Linked DNA regions of Homo sapiens: region 2 is linked to region 1. Evidence: fine-mapped expression QTL. Tissue or cell type: whole blood. Region 1 holds a variant in brackets; the other region holds the start of a gene. All regions are shown on one strand. Distances are from middle to middle.

Evidence for each region. PIP is the estimated chance that this variant, and not a neighbour inherited with it, causes the effect. A credible set is the group of variants that fine-mapping cannot tell apart.
Region 2: ZNF239 starts here. The variant in region 1 is the best candidate, but not a certain one, in a credible set for the expression of ZNF239 in whole blood (INTERVAL, PIP 0.85).

Annotation. Positions count from the first base shown.
Region 1 is chr10:43,523,377-43,528,605 of GRCh38, forward strand. It overlaps a transcript of ZNF487 not described here and the pseudogene LOC100130881. Among named protein-coding and RNA genes, the nearest start is that of ZNF239, 49 kb to the right of the region's middle. The variant T/C (reference allele first, on the strand shown) is at 3,008.
Region 2 is chr10:43,572,009-43,577,237 of GRCh38, forward strand. ZNF239 (zinc finger protein 239) reads right to left here and starts at 2,608. Exons shown (of 4, transcript NM_001099282.2): 1 at 2,532-2,608; 2 at 1,629-1,669. RefSeq lists a silencer at 2,331-2,390.

The DNA.
Region 1 (5,229 bases):
CAAACCTTGTTCCAATGAGAAAAATACCTGATAAATATGACTTATGTATAATGAACGTGAATTATATTTCAGAATTAATTGTTAGTAATAGAAACTCCTTTGGAAGGAAGCTTGATGAGCTCAGTGCACATGCGAAATTGCTCCTTCATATGACATGAGCATCCTTATGCCAGAGAGAAACATTTTGAGTGTGACAGAAATGAGAAAGCCATCTGTTAGAATGAGGACTTATTTCAGCATCAGGATATTCAAACTCTGAAGCAAATTTTTGAATACCTTGAGTGTGGGAAAGCTTTTCATGAGGAGGCAGCCTTCAGTACCCATAAGAGAGTGTGCTTCTGGGAGAAACCTTGTGAATATAATGAACAACTAAGAGCCTTTTCTGACAATCCAAACCTCCTTGTTCATCAGAGTACTCACAGAAGGGAAAATCACTACGAGTTTAATTGCTGTGGGAGGAGGTCTGTTGGTGAGAAATCTCTAAATAAACACCATGGAGGAATCATGGGGAAAAAATACTATGAGTGTGAGAATAATTTTGGCAAAAGTCACTCTTTATTGACACTGAAAGAACTCAAAAAGGAAAAACAAGCTTTGAATGTAATGAAGGTAGGGAAATCTTTAAGAAACCAAGTCTCTCTCAACAGCATACATACGCAGAAAAGAAAACCTTTCAAAATAGTCATTATGGGAGTTCTTTTTGGCATATGTCAGTTCTCCCTAAACATCAGCAAACACACGTAGGAGGAAAGTTCTATGAATGTAATGAGTGTGGGAAAGCTCTCAGCCACAGTTCATCTATCATAGTACATAATAGGATATACACAGGGGAGAAACTTTATGAATGTACTGAATGTGAGAAAACCTTCACAAATAGGTCAGGCCTTACAGTTCATTGGCAGATACACACAGGGCAAAAACCCTAAGAATGTATTGAATGTGTCATGCACATTCGATACATACAAATGCAAAGTGTCATTAGGTTATGTGACTTATATCTGAAGGGAAGCCTTTAGATATAAGTCAGTCCTTACAGTACATCAGTACATCAGAGAACACACACAGGTGATAAACCCAATGAGTGTAGTGAATGTGGGAAAAAATTCTGTGAGAAGTCATATCTCCAAGTACATCAGAGAACTCACACAGGGGAGAAATCCCATGAGGGTAAAGAATGTGGAAAAACCTTTGTTTACAATTCATTCCTCATAGTACATCAAAGGATACACATAGGTGTAAGACCCTATTAATGTAACGAATGTGGGAAAACATTCTCACAAAAGCCAGACTTCACTTATCATCAGAGAACTCATACTGGAGAAAGGCCCTGTGAATGTAATGAATGTGGGAAGTCTTTCTCAGTGAAGTCAAAACTTATTGTGCATCAGAGAACTCACACAGGGGAAAAACCCTATGAATGTAATGAATGTGGGAAAACCTTTTCCCAGAAGTCATCTCTTACAGTACATCAGAGAACACACACAGGGGAGAAACCATATAAATGTAATGCATGTGGGAAAAGTTTTTCCCAGAAGTTATCCCTTACTGTACATCAAAAAAGACATAAAAAGAGAAGCCATATAAATGTATTCAATGCAGCAAAACATTTAACCAGAAATCAGCACTTACTAAACATCAAAGAGCTCAGGAGAGAAACTTCATAAATATAATGAATGCAGCAAAACTTTTTACCACAAGTCATCCCTCACAGTACATCAGAGAACCCACACAGGAGAGAAACCCTACAAATGTAATGAATGTGAGAAGACTTTCTACCAGAAGTCATCACTTATAGCACATCAGAAAACACACAGAAGGCAGAAATCCTGTGAATCTACAAATGTGGAGAGCCTTTTATCAGAATTCACTAATCTGAGAAAGTACAGAGAGAAGTCCCTGTTAGCATCTTCTGAAAGTCCAGAAACCTTTTCTTACTTAACCTACTCAGTTTACATTAAAAACAGTGAAGGGGAGAAACTTTGTAAGTATGAGAAATATTTTGCCCAGAAATAAAGGGCCATCTTAGTGAGCAGCAGATATTTGATATTTGAAACATCTTACGAATATTTTGAATAAGTTGTAACTTTGAAAATGATTCAGTTTTGGTTATACATGAGAGATTTTAGCTCACTGGAAATGTCAGTTTGGTAATTGAGACTAAAAACTTCCTTTAGAAATATTATACTAAAATTCTTGTTTCTGATATACCAAAATTTTATTGAAAATATTCAGTTACAGACATACTGTGTACTAGGAATCTAACTTCAAAAAGCACAATTAGGTCGAATAGTCATAAATACACCAAATACAAATGCAAAGTGTCATAATGTTGTGTGAGTGTGCTTTATTTTTATTTTTTATTTCATTTTATTTTATTTTCTGTGTTCCGTAAAACTTTACTTACTCAAGTCCAACAGAGCTTAAAGGTTAAAAAAAAAGTACTTACAAAGACAGGCAGCGGGCTGGACTTGGCCTACAGCCACTAATTTGCTGACCTCTGTGCTAAAATCAAGGTGCTGCTAATGCAATCAATACTTTTTAACAGCACCTTACATGCACGCCATTATCCTTCAAAGGCAGACATTTGGCTGGGCGCCGTGGCTCACGCCTGTAATCCCAGCACTTTGGGAGGCCGAGGTGGGCAGATCACGAGGTCAGGATATCGAGACCATTCTGGTTAACACGGTGAAACCCTGTCTCTACTAAAAGTACAAAAAAAATTAGCCAGGCGTGGTGGCGGGTCCCTGTAGTCCCAGCTACTCAGGAGGCTGAGGCAGGAGAATGGCGTGAACCTGGGAGGCGGAGCTTGCAGTGAGCCGAGATCGCTCTGCTGCACTCCAGCCTGGGCGACAGAGTGAGACTCTGTCTCAAAAAAAAAAAAAAAAAAAAGGCAGACCTTTATGCTACATGCTTTCATTTTGATTTTTCAAATGTTCAGTTTGCAGCTTACAATACAAGCGCTGTAAGGGAATAATATCTTGTGGGACTCAATACAGAACTTCAATGT[T/C]AAAGCAATTTTTCATTGTGTTAAAGCACAGAAGTGTGAATAAGGCCAGTATAATGGGAAGAAATAATTCTACCCAAATACATCCTATAGTAATAAATCTGCAATCAAGAAATCCACTTGGGTGTTGGAGTAAATGGCCTTGAACAGAAAGAACTAGTATCTAGGAAATGCATAATCATATAAATAAAAATTTCTAAAATAAAGCAAAAGGTTACATTTCTAAGCCTTAAAGTATTTTTCTTTCTTCACACTTGAATTTTTATTCTAAGTGACTGAACAAAAAATACACCATCAAGATGAAAAGGCAATTCAGAAAAGAAATACAAGCACCTAGCAAATAAGTGTAAATATATGCAATCTCCAAAAAAAGTAAATTATAACCAGAAGAAAGAATCGGTTAAAAAAAATTAGGGTGCATATAATTTGCATTCGAAGCTTTCCCTTACAAGCCTGAATCCTCAGTACCAGATCTTAATCTTCTATATCTCAGGTCAGCCCCTCCAAATATAGCTGCCTCATCAGATATTTCAGTTTAGATCTGGCCAGATGATCAGGCTATTCCCCTAACTAGTGTGGGCCACAAAAGACTCAAGTGACATTGAGAAAAATCAGAGAAGATGAACCAGGCTTGGTAGCTCATGCCTGTAATTATCTGGAGGCTGACTGGGGAGGATTGCTCGAGCCTGGGAGTTCAAAGCCATCCTGGGCTCACAAAAAAATGGTGGGGGGCAGGTGGGAATTTTGATGCTTAAATTCCTTGGTTCCTTCTGTAGTGGATTTCTTCTTTTTTTTTTTTATTATACTTTAAGTTCTAGGGTACATGTGCACAATGTGCAGGTTTGATGCATAGGTATACATGTGCCATGTTGGTTTGCTGCATCCATCAACTCATCATTTACATTAGGTATTTCTCCTAATGCTATCCCTCCCCCAGCCCCCCATCCCCTGACAGGCCCTGGTGTGTGATGTTCCCCTTCCTGTGTCCAAGTGATCTCATTGTTCAATTCCCACCCATGAGTGAGAACATGTGGTGTTTGCTTTTCTGTCCTTGTGATAGTTTTTTGAGAATGATGGTTTCCAGCTTCATCCATGTCCCTGCAAAGGACATGAACTCATCATTTTTTATGGTTGCATAGTATTCCATGGTGTACATGTGCCAAATTTTCTTAATCCAGTCTATCATTGATGGACATTTGGGTTGGTTCCAAGTCTTTATTATTGTGAATAGTGCCACAATAAACATATGTGTGCATATGTCTTTATAGTAGCATGATTTATAATCCTTTGGGTGTATATACCCAGTAATGGGATTGCTGGGTCGTATGGTAATTCTAGTTCAAGATCCTTGAGGAATCGCCACACTGTCTTCCACAATGTTTGAACTAATTTACACTCCCACCAACAGTGTAAAAGTGTTCCTATTTCTCCACATCCTCTCCAGCATCTGTTGTTTCCCGACTTTTTAATGATTGCCATTCTAACTGGCAAGAATGGTATCTCATTGTGGTTTTGATTTGTATTTCTCTGATGACCAGTGGTGATGAGCATTTTTTCATGTGTCTGTTGGCTGCATAGATGTCTTCTTTTTTTTTTTTTTTTTGAGACGGAGTCTTGCTCTGTTGCCCAGGCTCGAGTGCAGTGGCGTGATCTTGGCTCACTGCAAGCTCTGCCTCCCGGGTTCATGCCATTCTTCTGCCTTAGCCTCCGGCGCTTGCCACCATGCCCAGCTAATTTTTTTTGTTTTGTATTTTTAGTAGAGACAGGGTTTCACCATGTTAGCCAGGATGGTCTCGATCTCCAGACCTCGTGATCCACCCGCCTCAGCCTCCCAAAGTGCTGGGATGACAGCCATGAGCCACCGCACCCAGACAGATGTCTTCTTTTGAGAAGTGTCTGTTCATATCCTTTGCCCACTTTTTGATGGGGTTGTTTGTTTTTTTTCTTGTAAATTTGTTTGACTTCTTTGTAGATTCTGGATATTAGCCCTTTATCAGATGGGTAGATTGCAAAAATTTTCTCCCATTCTGTAGGTTGCCTGTTCACTCTGATGGTAGTTTCTTTTGCTGTGCAGAAGCTCTTTAGTTTAATTAGATCCCATTTGTCAATTTTGGCTTTTGTTGCCATTGCTTTTGGTGTTTTAGTCATGAAGTCCTTGCCCATGCCAATGTCCTGAATGGCATTGCCTAGGTTTTCTTCTAGGGTTTTTTATGGTTTTAGGTCTA
Region 2 (5,229 bases), 49 kb after region 1:
AACCACAGTTCATAAGGGCGAAGTGACTTACCCAATGTCACAGAGGAAAAGCAGGGTTAACTAAGACTCCCGCCTTTCAGCAGACCTAAGGACAATGTGTGGTACATAGAAAACACACAATGCTTGGAATGAAGTCCTTCCTTTAAATTAAAAAAGTTGTTGTGTAACACACACCAGAATCTCAAAATTTACTAAACTGGCAATCCCCAGTTGCAGCGGCAGTGAATACTTAATCATTAGGGAGCAGGCAGAAGCGAAGGAAGGAAAATGTATTGATTCTACTAAGGTTAATCTCCCTTGAAGTCCTCAATTACTTTTCAGGGCACAGAGAAGCCATGCTCTCAGTACCTCAAGTCAGCTTACTGTCCTCTAAACAGATTTTTTCTAAGAGCTCATGTGTGTGAGGGCTGTATTTGCCAAGCAAAAAGATGGCCTTTGCTGGTAGTGTTAAAAAACATTTTTTTTCCCTTAAAACGCAGTCTGATATTTTATTCAAACAACTTCTGATGTGATGACCTGTTTAGTTAATGGAGAAAGAACAGCCTGAAGGAAGAAAACACGGGGTTTATTTCTGGCCTTCTGCTCTCTGAAACAAAGGACAAGGCACTTTCCTTCGGCTCTCTCAGAGTTAGCCGAGTTAGAGCTCTCCACCATAAAACGCCAGGACAGGGCAAAGAGGGGGCCGACCATCTCAAACACCATGGGATTCTAAGTGGGGGCTGACCATCTCAAATACCCTGGGAGTCTAAGGGTTAATTTTGAGGTAACCTCCTACAGATGGTTTTATGGGGACAACTGAAAACTCTCTTTAAAAAAGTACGACTTGGTAATTTAAAATTTACTGGAACAGTTAAATATGTAGACATGCTAGTGAAAGAGAACAAATCAACCTGAGTATAAAGGATGAATAACTCATTTTACCTACCCTAGAGACACTTATAGTGTATAGAGAGATATTTCACAATAAACCTTTGGATGTACAAAGATCAACAGAATAAAAAAGGAGTGAAACTCTCCTTTCACTAGGTCTGGAAGAGAGAAGGAAGCTTAGTTCTTAAAAAACACCACAGAGAGTTCTGATGCATAGCCTAGTTGAAAAGCATTTCTAGAGTGATTTTGTAACCACTGTGCTGCCATTTAACGAATTTCCTCGTTTTTGACTCATAGTTAATAAATTATCACTATTAATATGCATTTTTTTGTGTACAGGTAATATAATATGTTCATCAAGATGGTAAGCTCCTTGAAGAAAAGCACCGTGGTTTATCATTCTATCTGTTTTGCTGAGACCACTTAGCACTGGGATGAGTATGGAATAGCTTGGAATGACTTTCAATGTGAGTGAAATGTCTGGCAGGAAAAGGCAGGCTTTGAGAGGCTCCCCAGGAGGGCACAGCCCACTGCTCTGAGGAGTGGAATAAATTCTTGGAGGCAGGATGGGCCAGTGAAAACTCTCTGTGCAGACCCTGGTGACATCATCTGCTAGCTACATGTCCTTAGTATCTTAATGTCCCTACATCCATAGCTATAAAATACCGTACTGGGGGCCTGACAATAAAGAAAACAACACATGGCACAGGGACATTTCAGGGAGATGGCATTTTAGGAGAAATGGAACGCCAACTCACCCGGACCCTGGTCATTTCTTACTCCCAGAGGGGATGGATTCCTGGAAAGGCAGAGTTAGGGAAAGAGAAAAAGCCATGAAAATCAAGTCCAGCAAGACTGCGGGGAAAAAGTTACTCCGCTCCTGCCTCTGACGCTTCTTCAGTCACTTCCACCCACACTCCCTCCATCAGGTGAGAGGTGAAGCATTTTCTGTCACCACCTTCATCTCTCTCCACAGGGCTTTCGATTAAACAAGCCAAGTTTTCCCCCCAAAACCAAGAGGCTAGGTAAATTCCGCAGCCGCCGGCAGCTCGAAGCCGTGCCCATTTCCTCTGACTTTCCCGATCTCTGTCCTAAAGTTCTAGTTAAGAGGAGAAGCTTCTCGGGATGGATTTCGGTTGCCCAAGACGCCTTCCCCGACCTCATTCTCAGGAGCCTGGCTCGTTCCTGCGGTGCGGGGGCTCAGATGCAAGCTCTTTTCAGCGAAGGCAGTGCTGCGGACAGAAACCTCAGTCTCTTACAGGAGCCCCCGTCCGTCGCCTAACGTCCACCGAAAACCCCCCTGCAATAACGCCCGTCACAGGCGAGGAAAAGGCCGGCGTGGCCAACCACGAAGCCCCCAGCCGGCCCAGGCCAGAGCTCGGCCAGGAGGGAGGAGGGGCCATCGGAGGCGCGGCCGCTCAGCTGCAGGGCCCCACAGGCTTCGGTGTGGCCGCAGCCCGGCCCCGGGGGCGCAGCAGCTCGGAAATGCGGCGCCGGGACACACGTGCCGCCGCGGGCCGCGCCTCCGCTGGTCGCGTGCCCTACCATCGCCGCCCTCCCGGCTTCCGCAGCTCGGCGGCCCAGCGCCTTACCCGCGGCACACCCATTTCCTGACCCCTGAACGCCTCTGCCAGCGGCTGGGGAAGCCCGGCCAGTCTCACCTCCCACGTGGAACCCCACGCCTGCAGGGGCCAGATTCCGGATGCTGACCGCTCGCGCGCCTAGGGCCCCGAAATACAAGTCCCAGCAAGCCGCGGGCGAACCACGCCCACTTCCGGCGCGGGCCCCTGAACTCTGCGCTGTGCGGAGCGGGATTCTTGGGCGGAGGGGACCATCTTTGAGTCAGCGACGCGTGTATTCAAGTCCTCCTCCTCGTTTTTTATTACAAACAAATAAGAATTATTTTAGGAATACCTGTTAAGGTGATTTTCATTTGTTAAAATACTATTGGGGGAAAAGGATGTAAATACCCATAATTTCATCTTTACCTTTCAAAACATTCTGAAGTGAATATTTGCCATTCGGCATCTTCCATCTCACCTCTGAAGTTCATCCATTTAACAGATATTAATTGAGAGCCAACTGTGTACCAGGAGCTGTTCAAGATGCTTGCACAAAAGTCACTGCCCTATTCTAGTTGGGGAAACAAGCAATCCATAAATATAGTAAATATATGGCGTCGTGTGTGTCATGAGGTGGTACTGAAAGCATAGAGCTGGGCGGGGTGTGGCGAGGTGCGTTTGTGGGTGTGTAGGACTGGAGGTGTACTTTGCAATTTTAAATAGGGGATCTTGGAACAAACACAGGAGGTGAGGGAATTAGACAAGTGGCTCCCAGCAGTCAGAACTCTCCTAAACGCACACAAGGGTTGTTGATACCAGGATTTTACGTTTATTTCACTTCTCACCGAGTGACACAGAGCTACCCATTTGGTCTTTTCCCAATTCCTTTCTTTCAGATTTATTTTGGAGAGGAAAGAGATGTTGCCTGGACCTCTCTTCTACATCCTCCCCCTTCCTTGGTGTATTAGTTTCCAATTGCTGTCACAACAAATTAACACAAACTTAGTAGTATAACAAACATGTATTCTCTTAAACTTCTGGAGGTGCCAAGTCTGAAATCAAGTTTTACTGGGCTTTATAAAGTCAGTGTTGGTGGGGCTAGTTCCTCCTGGAGGTTCTAGATGAGAATATTTCTTTGCCTTTTCCAGTTCCCAGTGACTATTTGCATTCCTTGGCTTATGGCTCGCTCCTTTATCTTCAAAGTGCATGACTGCAACCTCTGCCTTCATCATCACATCACATGCTCAGGCACTGGCTCCTCGTGGGTCCTTCTAATAACGACTGTTGTGATTACATCAGGCCCAGCTGGCTAATCTGGGATAATCTCTTGACGTCAAGATCCTTAATTTAATCACATTTCAAAAAAAATCCCTCTTGCCATAGAAATTAACATCCACAGCTTCTGGGGGTTAGGACATGGACATATTTGGGGGACTATTATTTTCAGCCTGCGATGCTTGGAGAGGCCCACGTCCCCTTCGGTCTCCTCCTCAGAGATGCTGTCTTACCTTTTGCCTGGGGAACACAAAATGTCTCCCTTGGACCTTACTCCTCTCCTCATTCTTCATTGGAAAACCACAGAGCTTTTCCCTATTTAGATTTACCACCCTTGCCCTGACCTTCACTTCCTCATGTGCTCACTTCTCTCCTCACTCAATTTAAGAGGCCATGGAGCATGGTTATGGCCAGTCCTGTGTATGTGCCGTTACCCTTAACTCTCTTGTCCCAGTCTTTCTTGGTTTTATTCTCTTGATGGAAACCCAAATCTGCTTGAATCCAGTTCCTGGCCTGCGCCTGTACGGCAGAGGTTGTTTGAGAAAACCACATGGCTGGGATGATTGGTTTCATTTTCAGTTTATAACCATTAAGTTCAAGTGGGCCCTTCACGCTGCCTGGCTATCCTTCTACATTTCTTAGTCCATCCATTCTCCTAAATGACTATTTCACAGGTTCTACTCTCTTTTCATTATTTATTTATTTATTTTTTTGAGCCAGGCTGGAGTTCAGTAGTGCGATCTTGGCTGACTGCAATCTCTGCTTCCTGGGCACAAGCAACCCTCCCACCTCAGCCTCCTAAGTAGCTGGGACTATAGGCTTGCGCCACCACACCAGGCTAATTTTTGTATTTTTTTTTTTAAGAGATGAAGTTTCACCATGTTGTTCGGGCTGGTCTCCACCTCCTGGGATCAAGCGATCGTCCCACCTCAGCCTCCCAAAGTGCTGGGATTACAGGCTGAGCCACCATGCCTGGTCTTCTACTCTCTTTTCAAGCCGCCAACAACTCCTCCCATCTCACTGAGTGCTGATGACTTTGCTTTCTGTTACTGAGTAAAGAGAACTTCTATACCGCCTCACAGGCACATCTGCCCTCCTCTCTGCATTAGAAACTGTATGCTCTACTTTTCATTCTGAGTCACTGGCCCTAGTTCCTATATGAGAAAATTCTTTTGCACCCTGGATGTTAAATGCTTTCTCATGAATGAGGTCCTTCTCTCTCTTCTGTATTTCAAGATTTTCATTCTGTACTGAATTATCAGCATACTAATGAATACACTGTAATATTGTCCATAAAATAAATAAAACCCCTTACCTTGCACCCTATTTCTCTCCAGCCACTACCTCATTTCTCTGCTTTGCTTTACAGCAAAACTCCTAAAAAAATTGTCCCTAAGGGATGTTTCCAATTTCTTTTCTCCCATATTCTCTCTTTTTTCACATGCAAAACCCAAAATTTAATTTTTAACTTAATTTTAAAAATTGGTATATAATAGATGCACATATTTTGGGGGTACATGTG